7 linked regions of the Homo sapiens genome follow. The protein of the gene in region 1 purifies or fractionates together with the protein of each later gene. This does not show direct contact. Each region holds a gene or a part of one and is shown on either strand. Other genes may lie near its edges.

Region 1 (4,328 bases):
TTGTTAATACTTAAACCTTGATACTGTAATAACAAAGAGAAAGATATAGCAGCAAATTAGAGTCTAGGATTTGGAGTCTGAGGACTAGGGTTCAAAGCACTACTAAGCTACTGGCCATGTGACCTTGCGCAAGCAAATTTAACCTCTTTAACTCAGTTTCCTGAAATGCAGCAAGTGATAATACCTATCTAAGAAAGAGTGACTATTAAATGACAACATATAAAGAATATTGAAAATGCTATTTAAATCAACTCTCAAAGGGCTGACTTGATGGGTAGTCATGTGTTTCATGTTCCAACTACTCCAACAGCATCCTTACATCTCAAGAATGAACAAGTGGCCAGGCTTGGTGGCTCACTGTAATCCCAGTACTCTGGGAAGCTGAGCGGGAAGGACTTGGAGCCAGGAGTTTGAGACCAGCCTGGGCAACAAAGCAACACTCTGTCTCTGTGAAAAAAAGAAGAAAGAAGCTGGGCATGGTGGCACATGCCTGTAGTCCCAGCTACTCAGGAGGCTGAGATGGAAGGATTGCTTGAGCCCAGAAGGTTGAGGCTATAGTGAGCTATAATCATGTCACTGCACTCCAGCCCAAGCAACAGAGCAAGGCTCTGTCTCAAGAAAGAAAAGAAAAGAAAAGAAAGAGAGAGAGAGAGAAAGACAGAAAGAAAGAAAATAAAAGAAAAAAAGATGAACAAGTGAGAATTATTTTTTCTTCCATCTCTACCTTCTTCGCATTCTAGAAGCATATAGATATTTAATATTTTTAGATATCACTGTTTAGATATATTCTAAATAGCAGAAGAAAGGGGAAATATCTATCCTATCAACCAGAACAGAGCCTTTGAGGTCTAACTCAAGAAAAAATAGAAAGAAGAAGAAACTCACCCACTAGGGCTATCTCTTTACAGATGCAGAAATACCTGTATCTATTACTCCATTCCACACCAGCGAAAAACAGAAAAATTAAAAATGATGGCTAAGAATTCTCTGTCTGAAACAGGTTCGGGGCCAAGAAAGGATAATATGGCTCACTCCAAGACCCCAGAGGCCTACTTCTGGCTTCTGGTCAAAGTAAGAGCCAAGTCACAGATACTCTAATTAAAAACTGGACTGAAAGTCTTCCAGATTGGATTTTACACAGGACACCAGATAGCAATTGCTTACACATTACTAGCCTAGATTGCATTCTAATTATTCTTCTGTGGCAAAGAAACAACCTATGCTTTCTTTATCACTCCTAAGCCAATGGTTTTGTGCATTAGCATTAAATAATTTTCAAATAATACTAGAGGGAAAGTCCCTTCACAAAATACACACAGGAGTCATGAAAGAAAACATTGGTCAGATTAATTAGCCTGGACAATCTTTCAAATTTGAGCCCCTACTTGGACTTGCTGAAAGGAAAATACTTTATATTTAAGACTCAATACTCTTCCCCTCTTCTCATTCTCATTATTGCACTTGACTAGTCTTTAAAATCAAGGGAAAACAAGACTCTAGTTTTGTAACATTTGGGCTGGGTGCAGTAGCTCGCACCTGTAATCCCAGCACTTTGGGAGGCCGAGGAGGGTGGATCATTTGAGGTCAGGAGTTCAAGACCAGCCTGGCCAACATGGAGAAACTCCATCTCTACTAAAAATACAAAAACTAGCTGGGCATGGTGGTGCACGCCTGTAGTCCCAGCTACTCAGGAGGCTGAGGCAGGAGAAACGCTTGAACCCAGAAGACAGGTTTCAGTGAGCCGAGATAGCACCACTGCACTCTGGCCTGGGCGACGGAGTGAGACTTCGTCTCAAAAAAAAAAAACAACAACAACAAAATTTGGAGTTATATGAATGAAGATGTTTTCCAAGTTCATTATGCACATTTTTATCGCTATACTTAATGTAATTATTAGTTTATTCGTCTGTTCATCTCACCTAAGTAAACTGTGGGCTCCTAAGGCTGGGGCTGTATCCTTTAGCTCTGTATTCCCAGAAGAGGGCCTAGCATAAAATAAGCATTTAACATAAACTTACTAAACGAACATCAAGGAAGAGACTTCCCAAAACATCAGATATGTATGGGGTGAGGATTGGTGTTAAGCCATCTTTCTCACTAGAATGAAAGAAGATGCACTTCTAGGATGCCACAGACTTTTAACAATAATATAATACAAGTATTATTATACCTGAAGTGGATTATGTGTTGTTTTTGTGAACTAATATGAAAACATAAAGCAAATGACATATTAGTTGATAAGTTATATATCTTTTATCTGCAGCTATCTTTGGACTTGAAACTTACTTTCAGTTAAACAGAAAGGAAGAGAAGAATGGAGAAGGCAGGCATTTGTGCTTAGAATTTTCTACTCCTCCTATATATGGTAGCTATGTAAATATTGTTGAGTGACAGAGAAAAAGATGACTGTACTGCAGTTTAAGATACTGGTGTTTTCCTTAGATTCCCAGAACAGGAAACAATTCTGATGAGATCAAGTTGTGGCTTATTGGGACAATGTCCTTTTCTAACATAACAGCTTTCTGGGGGGCTTATCCTAAGTTTGTGACTATTAACTAAGTGCTCTTTTGACCAGTAAAGAGCATTCTTCAGTCTGAAATAACAGCCAGGTAACTCCCATAAGATGATACTAGTGTACCACACCCTGCAGCCACATGTAAGCAATAATATCATTTCAGTACAATGACATCTTATTTGTTAACCAGGAGTGGCCAAAAGTCATGATGTCAAGTGACATTACTTTTCCCTCTCATTCAAAATGCCCTAAAGAAAGAGCAGGTTTAAGAAAATCAATTAATTTTATATGGCATTTATATGAGTTGAGCAAATCCATTAATGTAACTGAAAAGAAGGTTTAAACCTGAGTGACCTCAAGAATTTAAAACTATTGCCGGTGACAATCAACATTTGTATTTGGGGGCAGGGTGTGGTGTCTCAGCGTTCACGTCAATAAAGAACATACGTTTCATTTTCAGCTCCATTGGTCTTGCTTTTCCGCTGTTTCTGCTCATTGGTTGCAGGAGGGGCCTGACCCATGGCAGGAGGTTTCCGCTTTGCTAACATTTTCCGTTGTCTTTCTATCTCTTCCCTCTGTGAATTTATCCTTTCCTGTTGCCTAGAGATATAAAAGACGTTGTACAAAGAAAGAAAGTCAAAAGTTTTACCACAGCTATGGAACACACACAATTTGTCACTTGTGTATCCAATTTCAGAAAAAATAAGCCCCTTTAAGTCAAGTAGAGATTTGATTTTAACTTCAGATTGGAAGGGCCAAATAATTGGTGATAGATGTTTTCTGGGAATGAGTCTGTGCTTTAAGACACTAGTTATTACTATTTTCAGAGTGGACAGGAAGGAACATATCAAATTTCTATTGTGACCTTATTTTCTGACTCAGAAGGAACAATTTTCTGATTCCTTTTTAACAGCTAAGGAAACAATTCTCTGATCTGAACCCATTAAAAGTAAATCGTATTTTAAAAGTTGTAAAAAGTTCCAAGTTCTATTTTATTTTTCTTTGGATGAAAGCTTCTCAGTTTTACGTAAAAAGATACCAAGTTTGTAGGATGCTAAAGAAAGTAAACAAGATTTTCTTTTTAGACCTATCCTTTATTCTAGTCTAAGGGAGCCATTACTACTCTACACGTCAACCCCGCCCACTGATACAGTGACACCTAGATTAAGTTTTTAAAAGAAAAATACATTTGGAGAAAGCACAACGAAGTCTTCCAACTAGTAAGAACTCCTTAGGGAATAGTATACAAAATGAATTAGTATAAAACATATTTTACAACTGCAGTTAATCTAACACCATTACCATTAGAGTATTTCCTAATAAGATGTCACATTTTTCTGTGATTAACTAGTTTACAAATTAGGGACCAATAAAAACTCCATTGTAAAAAAAAAAAACACTTTCTCTCATGTATCCTACCACCTAACAGATATTAAGGTTTACAGACTTGGTATATAAAAACATACAAAATTGGAGATTAACCATCTAACAGGTTAGTCTTTAAGTCACCCACTATAATTGACAATCAAATGATAGCTCCCTTCTCCTTCTTCCTCTACTGTGCTTTTCCACACATTCTCTTTTGTGGAACCAACCTTCATTTTTGTGGAATAATAAATCTTTTTTTTTTTTTTTTTTGAGACAGAGCCTCACTCTGTTGCCCAGGCTGGGATGCAGTGGCACGATCTCAGCTCTCAGCTCACTGCAAGCTCTGTCTCCCAAGTTCAAGTGATTCTCGTGCCTCAGCCTCCCTAATAGCTGGGATTACAGGTGTGCGCCACCATGCCCAGTTAATTTTTGTATTGTTTTAGTA
Region 2 (4,328 bases), on another chromosome or scaffold:
CTGTTTTGGGGGGGATCACAGGGCACTAGCCTTGTACAAAGGTATCCCAAGAACCAGGAATTTATTCCAAGTGAATGAGATTCCTCTTAGCTGGGTTGGGTGTGTGCCTGTAGGGCATCTGTGTCCTGGGCAGTGTATGTGGACTAGAGAGAGTGCAGTGGGTGCAGCCTCGCAAAGGGGACTTGACTCTCAGAACCAGAGTCCCCCTGAGCTTTGGGCTTTCATGAATATGTTCAGAAAATTTTATCAGGGTGCATCAAGACAGATACAGTTTGTTCACACACATAGCCAAAGCTATCAATATGTTATTTTACACGCAAAAGGGAATGAAGGTTGTTAATCAGCTGGCCTTGCAATAGGGAGAGTAGCCTGATTTATCCAGGTGGGCCCAATATAATCACAGGGTCCTTAAAAGTGGAAGAGGGAGGTAGAAGAGGAGCTTATAAGGATGTGATATGAGAAGGACATGATCTGCAGTACCTGGCTTTGAAGATGGGAGAAGGGGACCATCAGCAAAGGAGTGCCCATGGTCTCTAGGAGCTGGTAAAGGCAAGAAAACACATTTTCCCCTGGAGCCTCCAGAAGGGAGCACAGTCCTGCCAACCTTAATTTTAGCCCAGTCAATCCTGTGTAGCGCTTCTAAATTATAGAACTATAAGATAATACATTTGTGTTGTTTCAAGGCACTGAATTTATATTAATTTGTTATAGCGGTAATAGAAAACTAACACAGAATATGTTGTGTACTATTTTGGATTTGACTTTTTTCTCTCCAGAGGTGGAAATATGTATATAATTTAAAATGCTTAGGTCTTTTTACAGACCTAAAGTTTGATATTAAAATTGGCTAGGCGTGGTGGCTCATGCCTGTAGTCCCAGTACTTTGGGAGGCTGAGATGGGTGGATCACCTGAGGTCAGGAGTTTGAGACCAGCTGGCCAACATGGCGAAACTCCATCTCTACTAAAAACACAAAAATTAGCTGGGTGTTGTGGGTGCCTGTAATCCCAGCTACTTGGGAGGCTGAGGCAGGAGAATCGCTTGAACCTGGGAGGCGGAGGTTGCAGTGAGCCGAGTTTGCGCCACTGCACTCGAGCCTGGGTGGCAGAGTGAGACTCCATCTCAAACAAAAAAATAATAAAATAGTTATACTTGGTTAATTTAAAATCTGTCGTAGTTAGTATGCATTTACCAATTAAATTACCTTTGAAATGTTTTAAAACTGTTATAAATTGGTCTACCAAATGCCGAAATAGAAGGAATCACATTTGTTTTGTGCAATTTATGAGAGCTGAGAAAAACTTGTACAGAAGGAACCATTGAAAAGAGAGATAGAACAAAGATGTTTTCTGGACATGATGTTCACTCACCACTATTAAGCAGATGGAAGAATTCACTGAATTGATACTTTTGACCACCTCTTATGCTCATGTGGTAGGGTGGGAGTGAGGAGAAGGTGGAGATGACTGAGACAAGAGTTCCCACCCTGAAGAAGCGAATCATTTTATAGGCAGAATGGCACAGAACGGATGTAACTACAGAGCACATGGAGTGAGAGGTTCCAGGCAAATGCTGTAGACCCAAGACAAGGGAAAATCACATCCAGGGTTGAGGAAAGCTTTAGGAACAATGGGGCAATTGAGACAGGCCCTGAAGGATACTGAGGGTAGGGAGTGATGAGCTAGTGTTTTTTAATAGTGATCTCCAAGATGTTAATATCTTAGGTGCTTTTTCTGGGGAGCTTCTGTTCTTCTGGGGAGCCTCCTCAGTCCCTTGCCTGATAATTGGCTGTTGGTGTATTCTGAGGGGGAGAGAAAAAAAGGGGCCAGCACTCATTCAGTGTATAGGCTCCTAATCTTGCATGTTTTCAGCCTCACCTTTTCCTCTTTTAGGCTAGCGATTGTGAGTTTAGAACCCTTCTGGTTAATTTCCTTTAGAGAACAAACATTCTCTGTCCTCTCAAGGTGAAGGAGAGGCCCTGTGGGGTCTGACTGCTTCTAACAGAGACTTCTGTTAGTCTCTGTTTTCAGCCTCCTTCTCACCTCCACTTTCCATGGTTCCTGGGTTGTCTTCTCCTTGATTACCCCCACTGCAGGTGTGTAAGCTTCCATTCTCTCCCTCTAAATCAGGTATTTTCTTGTGCTTTCAGTTCCCCCCAAATTTGTTTAATCCTTCCTATGCTATTGTCTCCTTGTTCTTATTCTCACAGCTGATTCTGTTCTTAATTCCTAACTGTCTTTTTGAGGGGGTTTTAGGAGAGGTTATGCCCACAATAAGCCCTTTACATCTGAACATAATGAAGATCCATAAGCAGAAGAAGCAGTGAGAGCTCTGATTCTTGTTTTTTAACCTTTCTTTTTAAAACAGCAAATAATAGGCTGGGCACAGTGGCTCCCGCTTGTCATCTCAGCACTTTGGGAGGCCGAGGTGGGTAGATCACTTGAGGCCAGGAGTTTGAAACTGGCCTAGCCAACATGGCAAAACTGTCTCTAATAAAAATACAAAAATTAGCTGGGCCTGGTGGCACGTGCCTGTAATCCCAGCTACTCGGGAGGCTGAGGCAGGAGAATCACTTGAACCTGGGAGGCGGAGGATACAGTGAGCCAAGATTACGCCACTGCACTCCAGCCTGGGTGACAGAGCAAGACTTGGTCTCAAAATGATAAGTAAAATAAAACAGTAAATATTTCTTAAAAACAGAAGTGCTTGACTGTTTGATATCCATAGAATCTGATATTAGAGTTAATTCTGTGTGATAGGTTTTCCTTCAGAACTGCAAATCATTTCTTTTTTTTCCTTTCAAATCATTTTTGTAGAGCAAAGACTAGCTCTTTTGCTCTTGACAATTCATGAACTTCCTTTAAGATATTTTATTCTATGGAATAATCTATAAATCAGACTTCTTTTCTAATTTTTTAAACTTCTGAAAATGCTTTAAAAACTATATGTATGTATTTTTTTAAATACAGAGTCTCGCTCTGTCGCCCAGGCTGGAGTGCACTGGAGCAATCTCTGCCCACTGCAGCCTCCGCCTCTTGGATTCAAGTGATTCTCCTGCCTCAGCCTCCCGAGTAGCTGGGATTACAGGCACACACCACCACGCCCAGCTAATTTTTATATTTTAGTAGAGATGGGGTTTCACCATGTTGGCCAGGGTGGTCTGGAACTCTTGACCTCAAGTGATCCTCCTGCCTTGGCCTCTCAAAGTCTTGGGATTACAGGTGCGAGCCACCATGCCCGGGCAACTTTTTTTGTTTTGTTTTGTTTTGTTTTGTTTTGTTTTGAGACAGGGTCTTGCTCTGTTGCATAGGCTGGAATACAGTGGTGCTGTCTCAACTCACTGAAGCCTCTGTCTCCAGGGCTCAAGCAATCCTCCTGCCTCAGCCTCCCGAGTAGCTGGGATTCCAGGCATGTGCCACCATGCGCAGCTAACTTTTTTCTATATTTTTTGCAGATACGGGCTTCTGCCATGTCGCCCAGGCTGGTCTCAGACTCCTGGACTCAAGCCATCCACCTGCCTTGGCCTCCCAAAGTGTTGGGATTACAGGCATGAGCCACCACGCCTGGCCTAAAAACTTTTATCTGTGAATTTTCTATTTCTTCCTCCCACTGGGTTTTCATCTCTAGCCAGTCACTATATTTGACTTGCTGATTTGTATTTTCTTTTTAGGATTTTACAGTTTTTGGAGGCAGTCTGTCAGGAGCACATGCCCAAAAGATCTGCAAAGTAAGTGTTTAATACTCAAATTCAATCCATTGCTTTCCTCAGTTACATAGTGCTTATTGAGTATCTTTGGGGTACAAGACACTGAGCTAGGTACTTGGGGTAGGGCAGAGGTATGCAAGATGTGCTACCAACCCGAAGGGGTGCATAACAATTTTCGTACCATGGATCTCTTCCATGGGCTGGCAAAGCCTGAACCCTCCTGTTTTTACATGCCTAAAATAAAATTTGTAGGATTTTAAAGGATTAAAAATGTTTTTAAAAACCACATTTAGAATATACGTGCTCCCTTGTTAATGCATTTAATAACAAGATTTAGCAGTAGATCTAGTAACTACCGTAATTTCAAAGTAGTCAAAGGTGAAATATTTCAGGGTATCTGCAACAACTTTAATAGGACGTAAAAATATCTGTGGCTTCTAATAATGGCAAATCACAGATATTTCTAATACTGAGGCTCATTGCCTATATCAATAATGAAGAGAAATGTTAACGATCAGCTAGCGTTAGTAAAGATAAAGATGTAAATTTTTTCCTGTTCAAGTTCATGGACTCCCGTTCACAGATCTCTTGGGGTTCTGAGGATTTCAAGTGAAGAACCTCTT
Region 3 (4,328 bases), on another chromosome or scaffold:
TGACTGAGCATTGGAATCGTGTTATAATTTTGTAAAAATTGACCATTTTATAATTGAGATATCCCATCAGAGATAGCCTGATCAGTCTCCTGAGGTGGGTTTTTTAAAAGTGACAGGTCATAACCTCTGAAAATAAATGTGTTGGAAATGATAGCAGAAACTTCAAATGCTACAGTATACTTATAAAAAAGGAAGTTTTTGTCCATGAAATAAAAGCTGGTAGATTGCATAGCATCTTGACTTTTTTAAGGTCCCTGACCTCACTGAGAAACTGATTAAAGTTGTGGATGTTTTTGCAGAAAGTTGCCCACATGCATAGTGAGTGGAGGTCCATAAAGCCAAGACTAAACAGTTAAGAATTCCTGCATCAGAGACTATGGTTGAAAAGAATAAATAAACTTTTAACACAGGAAGTGTAAGAATAGGACAAATGTAGATACAGCGTCTACTCCATAAACAAGGTAGGAAAGAAGATTCATGGCAACACGTGAAATGATTCACAACAAAATATTTAGAGTGAGTTGGATAAAGTGACAGCAAAGACAGAGTGGAAAAGCTGTAGTGACAGAGTATATTTGGACTTACTAAGGGAACAGAGAGAAAGGTACAAAAAATGATATCATGGTCTTGGCTGTGAGACTCTCTGGGATTCTAAAAATGCTGAGGTCCATACATGTTCTGGTGCAAGTACCAGGAGAAAACAGAGCAGGAACAGAGCAGGTACAGAGAGGAAAAAGGAAAATAATATATAGTTAATATGTTATGCTTTAAAAAATGTCTGAGATCAACTTTTTCAAATTTTGAATATTTAAAATCACTTTAGTTAAATTATCTATCTAATGTGAAAAAAACCTTGTAATCACAAAAGTATACTACAGTACCATAGATTCCAACTGACATAGTTTAAAGGTTAATATCTAGCCAAGTGCTTTTGGAGAGTTATAATGTCAGAGGCGTGTGACCCAGAACAACTACATCTTGAATAGGAGCTGGGTAAAATGAGGCTGAAACCCACTGGGCTGCATTCCCAGATGGTTAAGGATTCTGAGTCACAGGATGAGATAAGAGGTTGGCACAAGATACAGGTCATAAAGACCTTGCTGATGAAACGCATTCCAGTAAAAAAGCCAGCTAAAACTCACCAAAACCGGGAATGACCTCTGGTCGTCTTCACTGCTACAATCCCACCAGTGCCATGACAGTTTACAAATGCCATGACAACATCAGGAAGTTACTCTATATGGTCTAAAAAGGGGAGGCATGAATAATCCACCCCTTGTTTAGCATATCAAGAAATAACCATAAAATGGGTAACCAGCAGCCCTCAGGGCTGCTCTGCTTATGGAGTAGCCATTCTTTTATTCCTTTACTTTCCTAATAAACTTGCTTTCACTTTACTCTATGGGCTCGCCCTGAATTTTTTCTTGCACGAGATCCGAGAACCCTCTCTTGGGGTCTGGATTGGGATCCCCTTCCTTAACAATAGTGTCATTTTTATCCCAAATGTTTCCTCTTCCATTTTAAAATCTTCTTCATTACAACCATTGGCACCTCTTTTTACCTTGAAAGCAAAGCTAGTCTTTACTGTGGCTGTGCTTCTAAGGTTTTTAACAAACCCATGTTGAGTACATCTTTCAACTTTCATTTTTATTCTTTTGTCTCCTTTCTTTTGCTTCTCCAATCACTGGTATGGAGAATTACTTCATTCCAGGGCTCTCTAAAGATATAATGAGCCTTTCTCTCCTTTCTGACTTCCCTCTGCAACATTCCTTTCTTTACTTTCTCCTGACACTATAGGAACAGCCTTTCTATTGACCTTATTAATTATAAAAGGACAAGATTAGCATCATGAGTATAGTTCTCAAATATAGCAGCGTATAAAATACGAATGACATTTTTCTGTGTGCTTACAATGTAAAGCAATTATAATAGGGATGTTATGGTTGGCTTTATAAGTAAATATTCTGATTTATACTACCTGTATCTACAGCTACATAATTGATATGCAAATTTGACTTTGTTTTGCATAAGTTTATCTGGCCATTATATCTATTTATAAATGTAGTTTGTGATTATATACACTTAGAGGTACTTGGTGTACTAGTTGAAATTTTATTTCCACATACCTCTGTGGGAGTCTGTTGAGCCTTTTTTTCAGATTTTGGCAAATCTTTGCTTCCTCTTCTTTTTAAGGATAACTGAAACAAAGCATGAATATATTTAGTTGGATAAACTATAATTTTAATTCAATTTTATGTTTTTAAGTATTCTAGTCTCAAACGACAAAACCAAGACAAATAAAAAGAGTTAGTTCAATAATCATAAAAGGAGGAAAAAAAATCCTAAACCAGATAGATTTAGATATATTTTTACTTTGGACTAGGATACACATCACAGTAGAATGTAGCTGGCAATTATTTAATTTGAGAAATACAGGAAACCTACTGTGAAAATGCAGAAAAACAACAGACAAAATTGATTGTTGACTCAATATGATATATAGTTCAAATGTAAACAAATGCTTGTTAGCATTCCACATCACTGAAGGAAAAAAAGTAAGTTATTATTTCCAATGTTGGGAGTTAGGTTGCTATAAGCTTATGAACACACACTTTCAGTGAATTTATGTAGAATCGGAAGCACTTCATTCTCCCCTCACCACACATCACCCCCTTGCTCCTCCTCGACACGTGCAAAATGATAGGGCATGGTAGGGGTTGTAGTGAAATGGAGAAGGCATGCCCCATCTCAAGAAACAGGTGGACCAGCCACAGCTTCAGCTCATTGTGTGATACAGGAATGTGGGCTTTTACAAGAGAAGCTGGGAATCTGGATTCTTATGTAAAATCTCCCACATTTTACTGGCTGATCCTAATTAAAATTCAAACTAACACTTTGGAAGTCAAAGAATACACAGCTAGTGCCAAACTGTTTCAAGGACAAGCGTAATATGATCTCTGGTGCTCAGTTCCATTTCTCACACCAATATAAGAAGAAGGGTCTCTGTATGTAAACAATAATTATCCGTATGTATGACTGTCTACCATATACTACACATTGAGGGGGAGACTCAAAGTTTGATTAGATACTGCATCTACCATCAGGAAGCTGAAACTTAGCAGGGGAGGAGACAGAGAAGCAAACAATTACAGTGCAAATTGATAAATGCTATGCTTTAGGTTCTGTGAAGCAGGGGTTTTGATTTAGTGTGGCATCACCACCATAAAAATAGTGCTTGCCACATGGCAGGTGGTGAAAAAAATACTTGCTGAACTAATGATATATGAATACCAAATCGAGGTTCTGAGGTCAAAGAGAAGGACAGGGGTATAGACTGACAGTAAAAATAGGGAAGCCTTTTCCAAACAGGAGTCTTCATAAATTCGCAAAGAAATGAAAATTAAATTCTTCACATGTTAATTTCTAACCCATATCCACTGTTAAGTAAAGGCATACGTTCAAGCACAGAAGGCAGGGGAATACTTTGGTGCAACTGCTTTCATTCAGTATGAAACTGAAACTACACAGACAAATGAATAGCCCACGTGGTTATTCATTTCTAGTTCTTTACAGGAAGAAGTTCTTTCTGTTGCTTGTATAATCTTCTTAGAAAGGAAAGCTTGGGGACTGACTCACCATAACCAAAAAGTAATTTAGGAAGTAATCAACAAAACAGTCCCAAGAATACCAAGAATAAAGTGAGCTAAACTAAGAAACCTGGAACATTCTAGGTAGGGGCTGCCTACAAGAAGCGTTGAATTTGTTTCACTAAATACTTATTGAATGCTTGTATTTGAATTCACTCAATTATGTGTTTATTTAGTGACTACCAATGCACTTCATAACATACCTGTGACACAATAATAATGAAACCAATGTGATCTTTGCTCTTTTGGGGGTTCTCAGCTTACTTGGCATGATCTGTTCAGTCTGGAATTCAACACAGTGTTATGAAAGCAATGATAATACAAGAACAATATTAACTGTCATTGAGCCCTAATTCATGTCAACCCCTTCACATACATTATCTCAGCTAATTTTTAAACACTCCTTTTAGCCTCACTTTGCAGGTGCTGAAACTAAAGTTTACAGGGGTAACAGAAGTAGATGAATAAATTATCAAAAGCATCAGTTATCTCTGTGCTCCTCAGAACAGCATCATCAGTGTCACCCAGAAAGCTGTTGGAAAAGCAAATTCTTGAGATTCATCCCAGAACCACTGATTCAGAAACTCTGAGGATGAGGCCCAGTGATCTATGATTTAATAAGCTAAAGTTTGCAAATGTCTAAAGTTACTAGTTGGTAACAATAACTTCAGACCTTGACCC
Region 4 (4,328 bases), on another chromosome or scaffold:
ATAAAAACAAATATTCAAGTATATTTACTTAATCTTTACTTCACTATTTGACCAGGGCACAGTGTGGCTTATTTCTCTTTAACAAATATTTCTATTAAAATATAAACATTTTAAAAGATTTTTTCAGCAAAAAAAAAAAAAAAAGTAAGTGAAGTAAGTGGAGCTAGTCAGCTCAGCATAAGAAAGTTTCAGTACAGAGCTATGTACACAGATCAGCCCTGTTCTGCCAAATGTGAGCTCCTAGTAACGACCAGGTCCCGGGGAGACACATGTGAAAGAGGACCCTGCTGTATCCTCAGAAAACAATGGCACCATTTCCTCCATTCTCAATCTGCTTTCTTCATGGCTGGAAAAGAAAGTTTTCCAGTTAAAAATGATTATGTGCAAAGATAGGAAACATTCCATCAACATTAACATATTTAATAATTTATGATTAATTCAAATGCATAAATTTCACATATTACCAGCTCACATGTTTCTTCAACAGTTCATCAGATAACTATCTTGAAAATTTCTGCTTGAAAATTTGTTCCCTTGACCACCCTTTTGCCCTCTCTTAATCAGTCTCCTCTCTCTCTCTCATCTTTTCTTCCTTCTGCTATCAAACTTTTCCTACTGGATCTCAGCCACCGATCCCAGTTCCCTTTTACTTCCTGGTAGTCTGGCTGTTGATCCCTTTGCTCTGAGGCACTCTAGATTTAAGGTCTTGCCAGTGATGTGACCTTCTCTATGTATTTCAAGTACCTATCAAGAGGTAGGTGGTAGAATGGAAGGACCACAAGCTTAGGTGTCAGAGTGTCCTGGGTTTGAACCCTTGTTCAATTTGTTCTATGGGAAGCTCCTCCTCCTCTCTGAGCCTTCATTCCCTTATCTGCACAATGAGGGTAATAATCTACTTCGCAGCGTGTTGTGAGGAATAAATAAGCTGGAAATTTATTGAGCACTTATAATTCACTATGCACTATTCTAAGAACAGGGCTTATCTCATTTAATCCTCACAACAAATCTATGAGATAAGTACAATCACTTCTCTTGGGTTACCAACGAAAAAACTGAGTTCCAGGGTGGTGAAGAAACTAAAAAGATCACACAACTACAAGAGCAGAGTCAGGATTTGAACCCAGATAGACTGAGCTTAACTACTGGCTGTGCTGCCTCTAATATAAAGCACAAAATAAGAGCTTTTACAAGGTTACACTGGCCTGGTGTGGTGGCTTATACCTGTAATCCGAACACTTTGGGAGGCCAAGGTGGGAGGATAGCTTGAAGCCAGGAGTTTGAGATCATTCTGGGCAACATAGCAAGACCCTGCCTCTACAAAGAAAATGTTTTAATTACCTAGGCATGGTGATGCACACCAGTAGTCCTAGCTACTTGGGAAGCTGAGGTAGGAGGATCACTTGAGCCGAGGAGTTTGAGGTTGCAGTGAGCTGCGATCGCACCACTGCACTGTGAGCCAGGCCTCATTCCCCGATCAGTACCCCCCAAAAATGTTACATTGTAGAGTGAAAAGAATGTAGATGCTAGAGGCTAACAGATCTGGGTTTGAATATTGGCTGTGCCACTGACTAGCTGAGAGATTTATGGAAAATCACTTAATCTCTCCTACTCTGCTTCCACGTCTGTAAAAATTTCATTGCTCCACTTTTCTTCAGGCCTATAATATAGGTTAATATAATCATTTATATAAAATGTTCATCATAGTGTCTGGCTCACAGTAAACATTTGATATATGGCATTTGTTAAAATTAGGATAGGAAGTGACATCAGAAGCACAATAAATATTTGTATAAGACAAAGCATTTATTGTCTCCAGCAAGAACCAAAGTAAAAATTCTTACCATAATTTTCCAGGTCTCAGATTCATGTCCAAACTACTGCTTCTGCTTCAACCTTCCTACCAATGACTTCCTAGTAAAACCCCTTAGCTTTTTTTTTTCTTTTCTTTTTTGAGACGGAGTTTCACTCTGTCACTCAGGCTGGAGTGCAGTGGCACAATCTCGGCTCTCTGCGACCTCCACCTCCCGGATTCAAGCGATTCTCCTGCTTCAGCCTCCCAAGTAGCTGGGATTACAGATGTGCACCACCACACCCAGCTAATTTTGTATTTTTAGTAGAGACCAGATTTCACCATGTTGGCCAGGTTTGTCTCAAACTCCTGACCTCAGGTGATCCACCCACCTTGGCCTCCCAAAGTGCTGGGATTATAGGCGTGAGCCACAGTGCCCGGCTGGCCCCTTCACTTTAGAAGGGAGGGTGTCCGCCCCCTGGGCTCTGCTCAATCCTACCAGTGGGTGTTTATAAAGTAGGTTCTGATATAGGTATGGGAACCCTGCATCCCAAATTTTCTAGGGCAATTCTGATTTTCTTCTCCCTTATCAGACTGTATGGCAAACAAAGTGTCCCAAGTTGAGAGTCAGAAAACAGTATCACCAAAAATATAGGCTATCACTTGTTTTCTTGCTCCATGCATCTTTGAAAATAAAATGCTGTCCTTTGTGCCCAGATTATACTAAAAAAAATAACAAAATAAACCTAGGACCTATGCCTCTTGCCATGCCATTAGTCTACAATTTTTTTTTTTTTTTAAGACAAACTCTTGCTCTATCACCCAGGCTGGAGTACAGTGGCATGATCTCGGCTCACTGCAACCTTCTCCTCCTGGGTTCAAGTGATTCTCCTGCCTCAGCCTCTAGAGTAGCTGGGATTACAGGCATGCACCACCATGCCCGGCTAATTTTTTGTATTTTTAGTAGAGACGGGATTTCACCATGCTGGCCAGGCTTGTCTTGAACTCCTGACCTCGTGATCCCCCTGCCTCAGCCTCCCAAAGTGCTAGGATTACAGGTGGGAGCCACGGCACCCAGCCTAGTCTGCTCTTTTTCTCCTAAAATAAGGTGGTGGATTTATGAATACAAAGAGTCTAAGAATGGTGGACTAGGTCTAGCAATGCTGTTCCTCAGCAGCTTTTTGGACAGAAGTCTTTGTAGACCTGTGGCTCTCTCACTTGATGTAGACCCATTTGAATGAATCTCCTTTTGCTTTCTCTTTCTTTAATATTTTTCAGGTACGAGCAGGTGATAATAAATATATGCACTTGAAAGTATTCAAAAGTCTTCCCGGACAAAATGAGGACTTGGTACTTACTGGATACCAGGTTGACAAAAACAAGGATGACGAGCTGACGGGCTTTTAGCAGCATGTACCCAAAGTGTTCTGATTCCTTCAACTGGCTACTGAGTCATGATCCTTGCTGATAAATATAACCATCAATAAAGAAGCATTCTTTTCCAAAGAAATTATTTCTTCAATTATTTCTCATTTATTGTATTAAGCAGAAATTACCTTTTCTTTCTCAAAATCAGTGTTATTGCTTTAGAGTATAAACTCCATATAAATTGATGGCAATTGGAAATCTTATAAAAACTAGTCAAGCCTAATGCAACTGGCTAAAGGATAGTACCACCCTCACCCCCACCATAGGCAGGCTGGATCGTGGACTATCAATTCACCAGCCTCCTTGTTCCCTGTGGCTGCTGATAACCCAACATTCCATCTCTACCCTCATACTTCAAAATTAAATCAAGTATTTTACAAAGTGTGTGTGTGTGTGTGTGTGTGTATATATATACTTTTTTTTTTTTTTTTTTTTTGAGACAGAGTCTCGTTCTGTCACCCAGGCTAGAGTGCAATGGTGTGATCTCGGCTCACTGCAACCTCCACCTCCCAGGTTTAAGCGATTCTCCCATCTCAGCCTCCCAAGTAGCTGGGATTACAGGCACCTACCACTGCGCCTAGCTAATTTTTGTATTTTTAGTAGAGACAGGGTTTTGCCATGTTGGCCAGGCTGGTTTCGAACTCCTGACCCTAGGTGATCTGCTCGCCTTGGCTTCCCAAAGTGCTGGGATTACAGGTGTGAGCCACCTTGCCCAGTCTATATTTTTATTCTGAAACAAACTTAAACATAGAGAAAAGTTGCAAAAAAAAAAAACCCACTTTTTTTCCTGGACATTTGAGACTAAGTTACTTACCATGATGCCCCATCATCAACAAATACTTCAGTGTGCATTTCCTACAAACAAGGATATTCTCCTGCAAAACTGAAATACAACCATCAAAATCAGGAAATTGCCAGGTCGCAGTGGCTCACGCCTGTAATCCCAGCACTTTGGTAGGCCAAGGCAGCAGGATTGCTTGAGGACAGGAATTTAAGACAAACCTGGGCAACATAGCGAGACCATGTCTCTACAAAAAGAAATTAGAAATTAGCTGGGCATGGTGGTATGCACCTGTAGTCCTAGCTACTTGGGAGGCTGACGTGGGGGGAT
Region 5 (4,328 bases), on another chromosome or scaffold:
CCTTCTCAAACCCTGGTTATTGGTGGATTATTTCTCTTTCTTTTCTTTTTTTCTCTCTTATTTTTTTAGAGATAGAGTCTTGCTCTGTTGCCCAGGCTGGAGTGCAGTGGCATGATCATGGCTCACTGCAGCCTTGATCTCCTGGGCTCAAGCAGTCCTCCTGCCTTAGCCTGCCACACGTAGCTGGGACTACAGGCACAAACACCATGCCTAGATAATTTCTGAATTTGTGTAGAGGTGGGGTCTCACAGTGTTGCCCACCCTGGGCTTGAACTCCTGGGCTCAAGTGATCCTCCTGCCCTAGCTTCTCAAGTCACTGGGATTATAGGTGCACGCCACTGTGCCCAGCTGAATTATTCTTAAGGAACAAGATGACACCTCAGAGCTCCATTTCATCCTTTTGAAGAGAGGGGCAGGATTAGGCAAAAGGAGAACACAGAGATGATAGTGAAAGAGATACAGAGGTGAGTGTTAAGTAAGCGAAAGAGCATTTATTCAGGGCAGAGTAGAGTCTCTTTGTGGGACTCCTCCTTCCCTCCCTGCCTTCTTCCCTACCAGGTAAAAATTCAAACCTACACAACAATAGAGAGGATGATATAACCAAACCCTATGTACATGTCAGCCAGATTCAACAGTTATCCGGATTTTTTAGGGCCCATTTGTAATATGGCCCAGGAGGAAGAAAATGCCTGAACAATCTAGATTAACCTAGAGGCAGGTGTTTCTTTGCTTATTTGTGCAATTTTATTTATCTCCTTCCTGATAAAGGGCTTCTTCTGCCTTGGGACTTCTTACTATCTAAGGTTGAGGTAAAGAGCCAGGACTCTATGAAACCACATTACTTAACTTGGTTTCCTCATCCATGTAGGAGAGCACATGTGGCTTCTAAAGGTGGTCATAATGGAGTGTTTGGCACAGGGACTGCTGCCTAATAAGTAATCATTTACACTGTTAGCAGTGGTAGTGTGTTTGTGGAAGGGAAGGGTCACCAGCCAGGTCCTTGAAAACACAGGACTGAAACATGCAGCGGGGGATCAACACAATTAGTCATACTGTATCATTGATCAAGGGTTGGGATGAGCGCTGATTTTCTAGAATTGCACCTACTGTATGTTCATTATCCCATTTTACTGGCCATTGTACAGGTTCTGTCCTAGATTGTGCTGGGTTAAGGGAAACAGTAGTTTATCTGCAAAATTAGGTAGTGTAACTTTTTAATATGCTTTTTTGATGGTGATGGGATTGCTATTTACATTAAAAACATTTTATGGGTTTTAAATATAAATAAAAATATCACAATTTGAATAACTAGATAATATACATTTGGCTTCGTGAATCACTTTTTTGTTTTTGTTCTTTGGAATTCTAGGAGGAATTCTATCTACTAATAAAGGCTGCAGACTTTATCTTCCTACAACCTTAGGACGTAAGAAACGTCCTAAGATAGATGCCTGGGAGGAAAAGGAAATTGAGGGCCTACAGGTGTTTAAAAACCTATAGTTTATAATTGCTTAGAGCCTTTGATTTCCCCCCCCACCCATCCATCTGTAGCACCCAGAGAGCCTTGGTTTTGTAACATTTTCACTTTTGAATCTAGTTTATCATATGAAAGTTTTACTGTTCTGTGATATTTTGGGGCATGGGAGGATCTGTGGTCCCAAAGTCCAGAGTAGTTTTAAATGTTTTTCTGTGTTAATATGCAAAAGTATCATGAAGGCGAAATAAATTGTTTGCAAATAATTGAGTCAAAATATTATTGTTCCTCCAAAGATCCTTACTTAGTCGTGTGTCACAGCTTGTATAACAGGACGTATTTTGCAGAGCTGTTTAGTTTGCACTGACTTGTGCAACAGGAATGGCCAGTTTTCCTTACGCTCAGGGCAATCAAACACAACTTTATAAGAATTGTAACTTTAAAAGATTTCATATTTTTGTTGTTGTTGTTGTTAAAATCGTTGATGAAATAAATTCAATAGTAAAACTTCTAAGATTTGAGTCATCAAACCTCTAAATATGCTGTTTTTCTGTTCTGTTCTGTTCTGTTCTTTTCTCTTTTTTCTTTTTTTTTGATGCAGTCTCACTCTGTTGCCCAGGTTGGAGTACATGGCACGATCTCAGCTGACTGCAACCTTTGTGTCTTGGGTTCAGGCGATTTTCCTGGCTCAGCCTCCCGAGTAGCTGGGACTACAGGCATGTGCCACCATGCCTGGCTAATTTTTGTATTTTTAGTAGAGGCAGGGTTTCACCATGTTGGCCAGGCTAGTCTCAAACTGACTTCAGGTGATCCACCCACCTTGGCCTCTTAAACTGTGGGATTATAGGTGTGAGCTACCCTGCCTGGCCTAAATATGCTGTTTTTCCTTTCTATTTATTCGGTTGACCAGTTTCTTTCTTCTTCTTTTTTTTTTTTTTTTTTTTTTTTGAGATGGGGTCTCACTGTGTTGCCCAGGCTGGTCTCGAATTCCTGACCTCAAGCAATCCACCCCCTTCAGCCTCCCAAAGTTATGGGATTACAGGCATGGGCCACCGTGCCCGGCAGGTCAATCAGTTTCATTAGAAGACTTGGGTTATGTCTCCTACAGCTTGTGTAATACAGACATTTTTATTTTTACATTAGTCTTTGTATGAAATGAAAAAAGAAATCAGTTATTTGATAAATACAATCCTTCACTATCTCATTCTATTGAATGCACTTGTTTCATAATGTTCCTTTTACGAAGAGTATATTGAAGGGAAAAAGGGGCAGACACATGTATTACTATCTGTTTTTCTTTTTTTTAAATTTTAGGATACATGTATTACTAACAACAACACACAAAGCATGTAGGTTTGAGTTCATTTGGAGTTGGCTTCTCCACTCTTGTTTGGGATACTCCTAAGTTGTTTTAGATGTTGGTGGTGTTTGTGTTCCTTGTCACCCTGTCTGTGGTGACACACGTTTGTGAAAAGGCCACCTGGTTTACTGTAGATGTGAAGTCATGGCTGTGGACTGGAGCAAAAGTAACCAACAGAAGTAGGATTAACGCTGTGAGCATAGCCTTCTTGCTAACTAGCTGAGCTCTCTGGCCATGGTTTTTGGTTCCGTTGATATAAAGAGATGTGCAGGGGCTGAGTGGCATTCCATGGATGTGCAGTCACCTTGTGATTCCAAGGCCCTGTAGCCCCTCAGCACATCATCACCATGCCTTCATTCTACTTTCTGCTGCCTTTTTTGTCTGTCTATACCAGGGCACAAGCAGACAGGATCAGGTAGCCCTACCTTTATCAGTGGCTCTGGGAAAGGCTCTTCTGGAGGAGGAGGTGGTGTGTGCTGCCCTCCTTCCCCCACCATCACTGCAAGTACCTGACAGTAGTAAGCTGTGTTAAGGGAAGGGAGGAAGGAACTTTGGGGATCCTAAGACTTCTCTGTCACAGGCGTGTAAGGCGGACTCTTCTCCGTTAGCCTTTTTTTTTTTTTTTTTTTAATTTAACTTTTAAGTTCAGGGGTTTGTTACATAGGTAAACTTGTGTCACAGAGGTTTGTTATACAGATTATTTCATCACCCAGGTATTAAGCCTAGTACCCATTAGTTATTTTTCCTTATCCTCTGCTTCCTCCCACCCGCCACCTCCAGCAGGCCCCAGTGTGTGTTGTTCCCCTCCCTGTGTCCATGCATTCTCATCATTTAGCTCCCACTTACAAGTGGGAACATGCAGTATTTGGTTTTCTGTTCCTGTGTTAGTTTGCTAAGGATAGTGTCCTCTAGCTCCATCCATGTTCCCACATGAGACGTGATCTTATTCTTTTTATGGCTGCATCCCTTAGCCCTTTAACTCATCATGCACGATAGCTGCCTTTGGATTCTTCCTTCCAGAGCCCCTTCTTGGAAGGTGTGCATCAGCTTGGTTACTCTCGGGACTTCCTCTGTACCACACGTGCCCTTTCTCTTATTCCTGGGTGCTCTCTTCTCTCCTCACAGTCTTCCGTGTGTGCTAAGATCGTGCAGCTCCTGGGGCAGAATGAGGTGGACTATCGCCAGAAGCAGGTGGTCATCCTGAGCCAGGATAGCTTCTACCGTGTCCTTACCTCGGAGCAGAAGGCCAAAGCCCTGAAGGGCCAGTTCAACTTTGACCACCCGGGTGAGTCGGGCATTGAAGGGGGTATGTATCTGTATTGGTGTGTTGGGGGGAATAGTTTTATTTTGCTCATGAGGAAGTTGCTTAACCTCTCGGAATCTTGTTTCTATCTAGAACGTAGGGACTTGATAACTACCTTGCAGTGTTATTGTGGGGCTTATGTGAAAGAAGGAATTTTCAAATGCTTCAAGTAGTGCTTGGCTCATTAAATA
Region 6 (3,396 bases), on another chromosome or scaffold:
GCTGCGGTACATAATGTTGGCTGGAGTGAAGAGATTGGGGTTCAGATCACAAGTCTGCCACTTATGAGTCATGGGATCTTGGGCAAATTACTTTCTCTATGCTTCATTTTCTCTTCTGAAAAATGAATTAATATGAATAAAAATGAACCTTATTTTAAAAACGGCAGGCAATTCATCTTTTAAAGTTACCTGATGTCAATACTATAAGTGAACAGGTATTATTTGCCTAATATACTCCCTATTCTTTGAGGAGTGACCCTTCTTCCGATTTCACCTCTTCATGAACTGCCAGATCTGGCCTTGGCCACTAGGCACTGGCAACAGCATACACACTCTGTCATCTTATCCAAGTCCTTGAAATGAGACCAATCTTTGTCCTGAGACTTAGTTACTTATAGGTGCTTAAAACCCAAAGCGTCCCAATTGATACAATTATGTATGTGTCTAATTCCAGTTTACTTTGTACCCACTACCAGTAGAGAAAATAAGTATCAAAGAACTAAGAATCAAACTCATCATTTTTAAAATCTACTGATTTTGATAACTGACTTGAAAGAAAAGAACTTGCAATTAGAGGTCATAGTGAAGATTTCCAGGGTCAAAGTGATTTCTGAGGTTTTAGATGTAAAAATATCTCCTATTTATTTGCTATTTCAGAGTTGACAACAAGATTTTTATTTGATCCACATATTTAAAAGGTGTGCAAAGATTGCTACTTTACAAAGGTCACAGAAGCAGAGGAGTCTCAGAGTCCCACATCCAATTACTAATTTGTTCTTCCCCATGACTAAATGTAGCAAATGATGAAGAAACTGGTGCTAGATTTCAAGGGATACCAGAATAGGAAGTTATTTGTTCTGAATCTTCAGTTGGTTTTCCTTTTCTCTTAAATGTTACCACTTTCCTGCAAATTTCCATCCTTAATATGTTAGACTGTTCATATAGATACATTGTGTTTACAACAAGGAAAAAATGCCACCATGTGCTCAGAACTTTTTTGACAGGTATTTTGAGAAGAGTTGTGGAACATTCTGGTAATTTGTAGAGATCTGTTGGCATCTCTGCTTCACAAACTGGAAAAAATCATTTGTAAGTCTTGCTAATTACTTTTCTTGGAGAAGAAAAAAAATGCTACAGTTGCAAACAAATGTATAGTTTTCAAAAAGAAGCAACTTTTTTGCTCCCCAGTTTATTCTTAGTTTCCAGCCCACGCCTTGCGATAGCGATAGGCATAGTGATGGCCTCAATTCTTTCTCTCTTGCATCCATACCTTTTGCTGTGATAGCAGTGATGGCCTCAGTTCTTTCCCTCTCTTGCATCCGTACCTTTTGCTGTGTGACTTTGCAGCTCCTCTCATTAAAGAGGCAGAGCCCCCTCTCCCACCCATAGGAGCAGGTTTTGAGAGTAACAGAATGAAGTGAAAATGACACTGTGCCAGTTCTAAGACCAGCCCTCAAAGGTTCATGTGTTTCTGCTTGCTTTCACTGTATTTGAAATGTTGCTGTGAGAAAGACATCTCTGAAACAGCTGAATGGTCCTAAGAAAAGGATGAGAGATGCAGGGAGCAGAGCTCCCAACTGAGGCCAGCCTAGATCACCTAAGAGCCAGGCCCCCAGTTTACTCTGATGTGTAAGCAATAAATGCTTACCCCAGCAATACCACCAAGGTTTGTGGTTGGTTTATATACAGCATTAATGTGGCAATAGGTGCAATACACCCTGTTAAACAAACCATACACATATGACTCTAACCCTAATCATAAATTGATTCAGTCTGTTCAGTTCCACAACGCTGTTTCCTCCAGAATCTCACAGATGACTTACTAAATCCAACACAAATACACCTCAGACTTTCTGTCTAGCTCCCAACCAGTTAAAAGCAATTCTAAATATTTTTTTTCTTAGTCGTAGTGCAAAAGTATATTCTCTCCCTTTCTCTATAGTTTTCTCTCATTTTGTCTTCAGACCTAGAAGCATGAGAGCCCAGCTGTCAAAGTCATCTAGACCCCCTTCAGAAGGTCATTAAATTTGTCTATTTCACAGGATTGCAAGATAAAATACAGAATGCCCAGTTAAATTTGAACTTCGGATAAACAACAAATTTTTTTTTAGTATAAGCATATCCCATACAATATTTGGGATATACTTATATTTTTATATTGTTTATCTGACGTTCAAGCTAACTAGGCATCCTGTATTTTTCTTAGCTAAATCTGGCAACTGTGCTATTTCATTGAAAACCTGAAAGTGTACAAAGAAGGAAGAAGCAGAATCTGCCATATGAGTAATAGAAGTGAGCAGGCCCAGGACTCCCTAAGTCAAGAAACCAAGAGGCGTCATTACGGAAAAGAGTAACTCACCCTGTGTGCTCCTTGGTAGTTCTCCCTCAGCGATGCCCCCATGTTATGAATGGGGAAAAGTTCACTGAAGGGTTCATAGTGAAGAAACTTTTTGGATGATTTCTGTTGGTGGGTTTTGGATACCTTCAAGGGATCAGAAAATAATATACTTAGGAAATTTTGGTAATGTCATCATTACTCTCTACATTATTATTATGACGGTTACAATTGTTAAATCTAGGTGGTGGGTATGTGGGTTATATTGTACATGATTTTTAACTTGTCTGCATGTTTGAAATTATAATAAAGTCAATAAATAAATTATTGAGACACTCCTGTTACAGTGACCGATTGCACTCTATTCATATGGATAAAGACATTTAATTTGTGGCCATTTGTTCTCCTTCCACCCATTAAGAATGTTAGTCAAGTCAGGATAGATGATTGGAGGCAAGTAGGAATTTGGCAAAAGCATCTCACTATTAGCAAAGTTAATTAAGGGTGTTATGGTTCAGTTTTAACTAAAAAACACCATACACTGCAAGATCTGATGGAGCACAGTATTATTATTATTATTATTATTATTTATATTTATATTTTAAGTTCTGGGATACATGTGCAGAACATGCAGGTTTGTTACATCAGTATACATGTGCCATGGTAGTTTGCTGCACCCATCAACCCATCGTCTACATTAGATATTTCTCTTAATGATATCCCTCCTCTAGCCCCCGCCCCCACCCCCCGAGAGGCCCAGTGTATGATGTTCCCTTCCCTGTGTCCATGTGTTCTCATTGTTCAGCTCCCATTTATGCGGTGTTTGGTTTTCTGTTCTTGGAACACGGCATTATTTTTAAGAGGGACGAGAGAAATAGGGAAAATGAAATTTAAATACCAGTTCTCTACCATTTACTCTGCTACATGTCCCTTGAGGTAGATTTTTATCACATTTTACTCATGAAGTTCAGAGCACCCTAGGGTGGTGCTGGGGTTGAAGACATATTTGATACCATGGCCCCATTTTTTTCTGCTATACTCTGCTGCCTTATTCCAATTGT
Region 7 (4,328 bases), on another chromosome or scaffold:
GAGTAAATTTCATCTGAAGAAATCACTTTCTTTGCTCGTTCATAAGAAGCAACTCCTTCTCTGCTCAAGTTTGATTATGAGGTCACAGCAATTCATGTATATCTTCTGACTCCACTTCTAATTCTCCTTCTCTCCACCATATGTGCAGTTATTTTCTTCAATGAAGTTTTAAATCCCTCAAAGTCATCCATGGAGGTTAGAATCAACTTCTGCCAAATTCCTGTTAATGTTGATATTTTGACTTCCTCCCATCAATCACAAACGTTCTTAATGGCATCTAGAATGGTGAATCCTTTCCAGAAGGTTTTTAATTAACTTTGTCCAGATCTATCAGAGGAATCACTATATATGGCAGGTATAGCCTTATAAAAGGTATTTATGAAATAATAGGCTTGAAAGTCAAAATTATTCCTTGATCCATGAGCTGCAGAGTGGATACTGTGTTAGCAGGCATGAAAACATTAATCTCCATGTACATCTCCCTCAGAGCTCTTGGGTGATGGGAAACATTGTCAAAAAGCAGTAATATTTTGAAAAGAATTTTTTCATAAGCAGTAGGTTCTAATGGTGGGCTTAAAATATCAGTAAACCATGCTGTAAACAAATGCATTGTTCATTCAGGCTTCATTGTTCCATTTCTAAAGCATAGGCAGAGTAAATTTAGCATCATTCTTAAGGACCCTAGGATTCTCAGAATAGAAAGTAAGCAATGAATTCAACTTAAGGTCACCAGCTAGATTAGCCCCTACCAAGAGAGTAAGCCTGTCCTTTGAAGCTTTGAAGCCAGGCATTGACTTCTTCTCTCTAGCTATGGAAAGGCCTAAATGGCGTCACCTTTCAACAGAAGCCTGTTTAATCTCCATTAAAAATCTGTTGTGGGTAACACAGTGAGACCATGTCTTTTTTTAATTAAAGAAATTTTCAATAAAAAAATTATCCAGGTGTTGTGGTGCATGCCTGTAGTCCCAAGTACTTGGAAGGCTGAAGGGGGAGGATCCCATGAGCCCAGGAGTTCAAGGCTGCAGTGAGCTGTGATCATGCCACTACACTCTAGACTGGGTGACAGAGTGAGACCCTGTCTCTAAAGAAATTTTAAAAATCTATTGTTAATTGTAGCCACCTTCATCAATGATCTTAGCTAAATATTGTGGGTAACTTGCTGCAGCTTCCATATTTAACACTTGTTTCTTCACCTTGCACTTTTTTTTTTTTTTTGACACAGAGTCTTGCTCTGCCACCCAGGCTGGAGTGCAGTGGTGCAATCTCGGCTCACTGCAACCTCCACCTCTCAGGTTCAAGCAATTCTCTGCCTCAGCCTCCCAAGTAGCTGGGATTACAGGCACCTGCCACCATGCCTGGCTAATTTTTTTGTATTTTTTTAGTAGACACGGGGTTTCATCAAGTTGGCCGGGCTGGTCTTGAACTCCTGACCTTGTGATCCACCTGCCTCGGCCTCCCAAAGTGTTGGGATTACAGGCGTGAGCCACTGCGCCCGGCCCACCTTGCACTTTTGTATCACGGAGATGGCTTATTTTTTTTTAAACCTGTGAACCAACCTCTGCTAGCTTTGAACTTTTCTTCTGTTTGAAGAAACAGAAGAACAGAGAACAAAGAACAAAGAATTTCTTCTAAGATAGCAAACCAGGGTCTAAAGAAGGAATGTGCCCTATTGCCAGAACAGGGGGCCTTTACCAATATCCAAGAACTCACAGAAAAACTCACTTCTCTCAGCCTTCATGGAATTGAAGAGAGTTAAGGTCTTGTTCTGGATTAGGCTTTGGTTGAAGGGAATGTTGTGACTAATTTGATCTATCCAGACCACTAAAACTTTCTCCATATCAGCAATCAGACTCTTTTTCCTTTATTATCATTCATGTATTCATTGGAGTAACATTTTTAATTTCCTTCAATAACTTTTCCTTTGCATTCACAACTTGGCTAACTGGAACAAGAGGACTAACTCTCAGCCTATCTTGGCTTTCAATATACCTTCCTCACTAAGCTTAATCCTTTCTAGCTTTTGATTTAAAGTGACAGACATGTGATTCTTCCTTTCACTTGGATACTTAAAGGTCATTGTAGGGTTATTAATTGGCCTATTTTCAATATTGTTGTGTCTCAGGGAACAGGGAGGCCCAAGCAGAGGGAGAGAGATGTGGGAATAGCCAGTCAGTGGAGAAGTTGGGACCCACACAACATTCATCCATTAAGTTTACCATCTTATATGGGCACAACTCGTGGTGCCCCAAATATCACTGATCATGGATCAGCATAACCTATATAACAATAACATTTGAAATATTGGGAGAATTACCAAAATGTGACACAGAGACAAGAAGTGAGCACACTGTTGGAAAAACGGCACTGACAGACTTGCGTGATGCAGGGTTGCCACAAACCTTCAATTTGTGAAAATCGCAGCATCTGTTAAGCACAATAAAACAAAGCACCATAAAAATGAGGTATGCCTGTATATTGGAGGCTGATAACTTGCCTTTTAGTACAAAAGTTTCTAGACAATGAGGGGCCATATCCAGACTAAATGGTGGCGGGCACTCAGCATCAGCCATAGAACCTGGACTTTGAGATGGATACAGTGACTAGGTGAGATTCAGGTTGTTTTCTGGAGTTGAGGTTTTCCTATCTGTAGCCAGAGAGCAGAATATAGTAGAATTTTTGTTTAGCAAAATCTATGCTTCCCTTTCCATGATACAGAAATATGACTGGAAAGTAGCCTCCCACCCAGAGGTTGCATACTCCAGCCCTCTTTGCATACTGACAGAGCAATGTGACTATCTCATCAACAGAATGTGAATGGAAGCCAGGTGTGTCACTACTTGGGTGTGCCTTCTCTATGTTCATTCTCTTCCACAATGTCAGCTGGATGCAGAGAGCTTCATGTTTCTAGTATCAAGAGCAAGATTTGGGTCCCCAAATCACTGCACTGAATGCATACATTGGACTCTCATATAAGCAAAAATTAAATGTCCACTCTATTAACCACTGAAATATGGAAGTTTAGAAGTTAAAGTTACCTCAACTAATACAATCACCATTGAAAAGCAAAAAAGGAGGGTAATACCTACTATTATGACCTGTATTGGGAGGTGGAAGACTTGGAGACCCTTAGATTGCAAGTGTTTGCCGTCAGGAATTCAAATCCTCCTCCCCTTCTTCGCCATTCCTGTTTAAAGCAAGTCTTAGACATTATCTTAGTTGTATTCCTTGAAAGACTCCTAACTAGTCTCCAAAGTATCAATCTTTTCTCCTGTTAAAGTTGATCCTATTCACATTAGCTCAGAGATTGTTGCCAAAAATAAAGTGGATTACACCACTTTTTAAAAATTTTCCATTGACCCTCTCTCCCCCAACAACCTGCCTTTCAGGATAAAATCCAAATGATGTAGGATGGCATAAACACCTTTCACATCTAATCCTCAACCTTCTTCAGCCTCGTCTCCCATCACTTCCCCACAACTGCCAATGCTGACCTTCAGTCACCAGCCAAGCCCTTTTTTATGACATTGCTTTGCAAATGCTGTTCCTTCTGCCTAGAATGCTCTCCATCTACCTCCTTTTCCACTTGGGGAATGCTTACTCATCTTTTAAAAATGAACTTAGATGTCACTTCATCTGTGAAGTCCTGTCTGACTATCCCACGTAGAAAATGATACTCTTCACAGTGATAATTAAATCATCAAATTGTGCCCACTAATAGGATGTCCCTAATGTTTAGCAAACTACATAGTTTGATTTTGTTGCTATTTATTTGTATTTAGTCAGCCGCTAAACTTACCTTCATACTAAAAACATAGAGTGCTCAGCTTTTTCAAAATAGCCACCCACACAGTAGAATTGGATTGGCTTTCTTCAATGGGAGAATATAGCCATAATCAGTGCTCCTGAATGAGAGGAATATGATCCTTTTGAGTGAGTTTCCTAAAGTTGTCAAGTGTTTGAAGGGCAAGGCCCAAGAATGCAGGAAATCCTGCTTCCTCCATAACTTTTACACATCTCACCAGACATATATGTAAATAAAAAACTTGCTTACTGTTATCTGTGACTAGACCCTAGTCCTATTGTTCATAGCATGTTTTTACACAGGAATTTTCTAGGAATGATAGAAGGTGCTATCACCAAGATTTGCTCACGATTTTGGGAAGTTATGTCACCAGCTATCATGCTGCTCCTGTTAATTGATTCATTAATCCAGTACACCCACATCTGTTTGCAATTGCTGCTGTCACACTCAATGAATATATTTATTTTGCTCTTATTTCAAAGTGCCAAATATATAAAAGTGTTACCAATATTCAATTGAATATTAT

What was found.
Region 2: the proteins of TLK2 (region 1) and PCCB purify together in Homo sapiens (affinity purification with mass spectrometry; one large-scale study listed by BioGRID and IntAct). This does not show direct contact.
Region 3: the proteins of TLK2 (region 1) and MTCL3 purify together in Homo sapiens (affinity purification with mass spectrometry; one large-scale study listed by BioGRID and IntAct). This does not show direct contact.
Region 4: the proteins of TLK2 (region 1) and CSTA purify together in Homo sapiens (affinity purification with mass spectrometry, with the first as the bait; one large-scale study listed by BioGRID). This does not show direct contact.
Region 5: the proteins of TLK2 (region 1) and UCK2 purify together in Homo sapiens (affinity purification with mass spectrometry; one large-scale study listed by BioGRID and IntAct). This does not show direct contact.
Region 6: the proteins of TLK2 (region 1) and COBLL1 purify together in Homo sapiens (affinity purification with mass spectrometry, with the first as the bait; one large-scale study listed by BioGRID). This does not show direct contact.
Region 7: the proteins of TLK2 (region 1) and KCNB2 purify together in Homo sapiens (affinity purification with mass spectrometry; one large-scale study listed by BioGRID and IntAct). This does not show direct contact.

Annotation. Positions count from the first base shown.
Region 1 is NC_000017.11:62,572,002-62,576,329, reverse strand, and holds part of TLK2 (serine/threonine-protein kinase tousled-like 2), read right to left. Parts: intron 3,116-4,328; coding exon 2,963-3,115; intron 1,986-2,962; coding exon of another isoform or gene 1,920-1,985; intron 1-1,919. UniProt on the Homo sapiens protein: Serine/threonine-protein kinase involved in the process of chromatin assembly and probably also DNA replication, transcription, repair, and chromosome segregation. Phosphorylates the chromatin assembly factors ASF1A and ASF1B.
Region 2 is NC_000003.12:136,256,810-136,261,137, forward strand, and holds part of PCCB (propionyl-CoA carboxylase beta chain, mitochondrial isoform 1 precursor), read left to right. Parts: intron 1-2,366; coding exon of another isoform or gene 2,367-2,426; intron 2,427-3,669; coding exon 3,670-3,726; intron 3,727-4,328. UniProt on the Homo sapiens protein: This is one of the 2 subunits of the biotin-dependent propionyl-CoA carboxylase (PCC), a mitochondrial enzyme involved in the catabolism of odd chain fatty acids, branched-chain amino acids isoleucine, threonine, methionine, and valine and other metabolites.
Region 3 is NC_000006.12:127,480,787-127,485,114, forward strand, and holds part of MTCL3 (microtubule cross-linking factor 3 precursor), read right to left. Parts: intron 2,199-4,328; coding exon 2,127-2,198; intron 1-2,126.
Region 4 is NC_000003.12:122,338,372-122,342,699, forward strand, and holds the end of CSTA (cystatin-A), read left to right. Parts: intron 1-3,067; coding exon 3,068-3,196; 3' UTR 3,197-3,598; downstream 3,599-4,328. UniProt on the Homo sapiens protein: This is an intracellular thiol proteinase inhibitor. Has an important role in desmosome-mediated cell-cell adhesion in the lower levels of the epidermis.
Region 5 is NC_000001.11:165,886,245-165,890,572, forward strand, and holds part of UCK2 (uridine-cytidine kinase 2), read left to right. Parts: intron 1-3,959; coding exon 3,960-4,119; intron 4,120-4,328. UniProt on the Homo sapiens protein: Phosphorylates uridine and cytidine to uridine monophosphate and cytidine monophosphate. Does not phosphorylate deoxyribonucleosides or purine ribonucleosides. Can use ATP or GTP as a phosphate donor.
Region 6 is NC_000002.12:164,679,468-164,682,863, reverse strand, and holds the end of COBLL1 (cordon-bleu protein-like 1), read left to right. Parts: 3' UTR 1-2,676; downstream 2,677-3,396.
Region 7 is NC_000008.11:72,543,404-72,547,731, reverse strand, and holds part of KCNB2 (potassium voltage-gated channel subfamily B member 2), read right to left. Parts: intron 1-4,328. UniProt on the Homo sapiens protein: Voltage-gated potassium channel that mediates transmembrane potassium transport in excitable membranes, primarily in the brain and smooth muscle cells.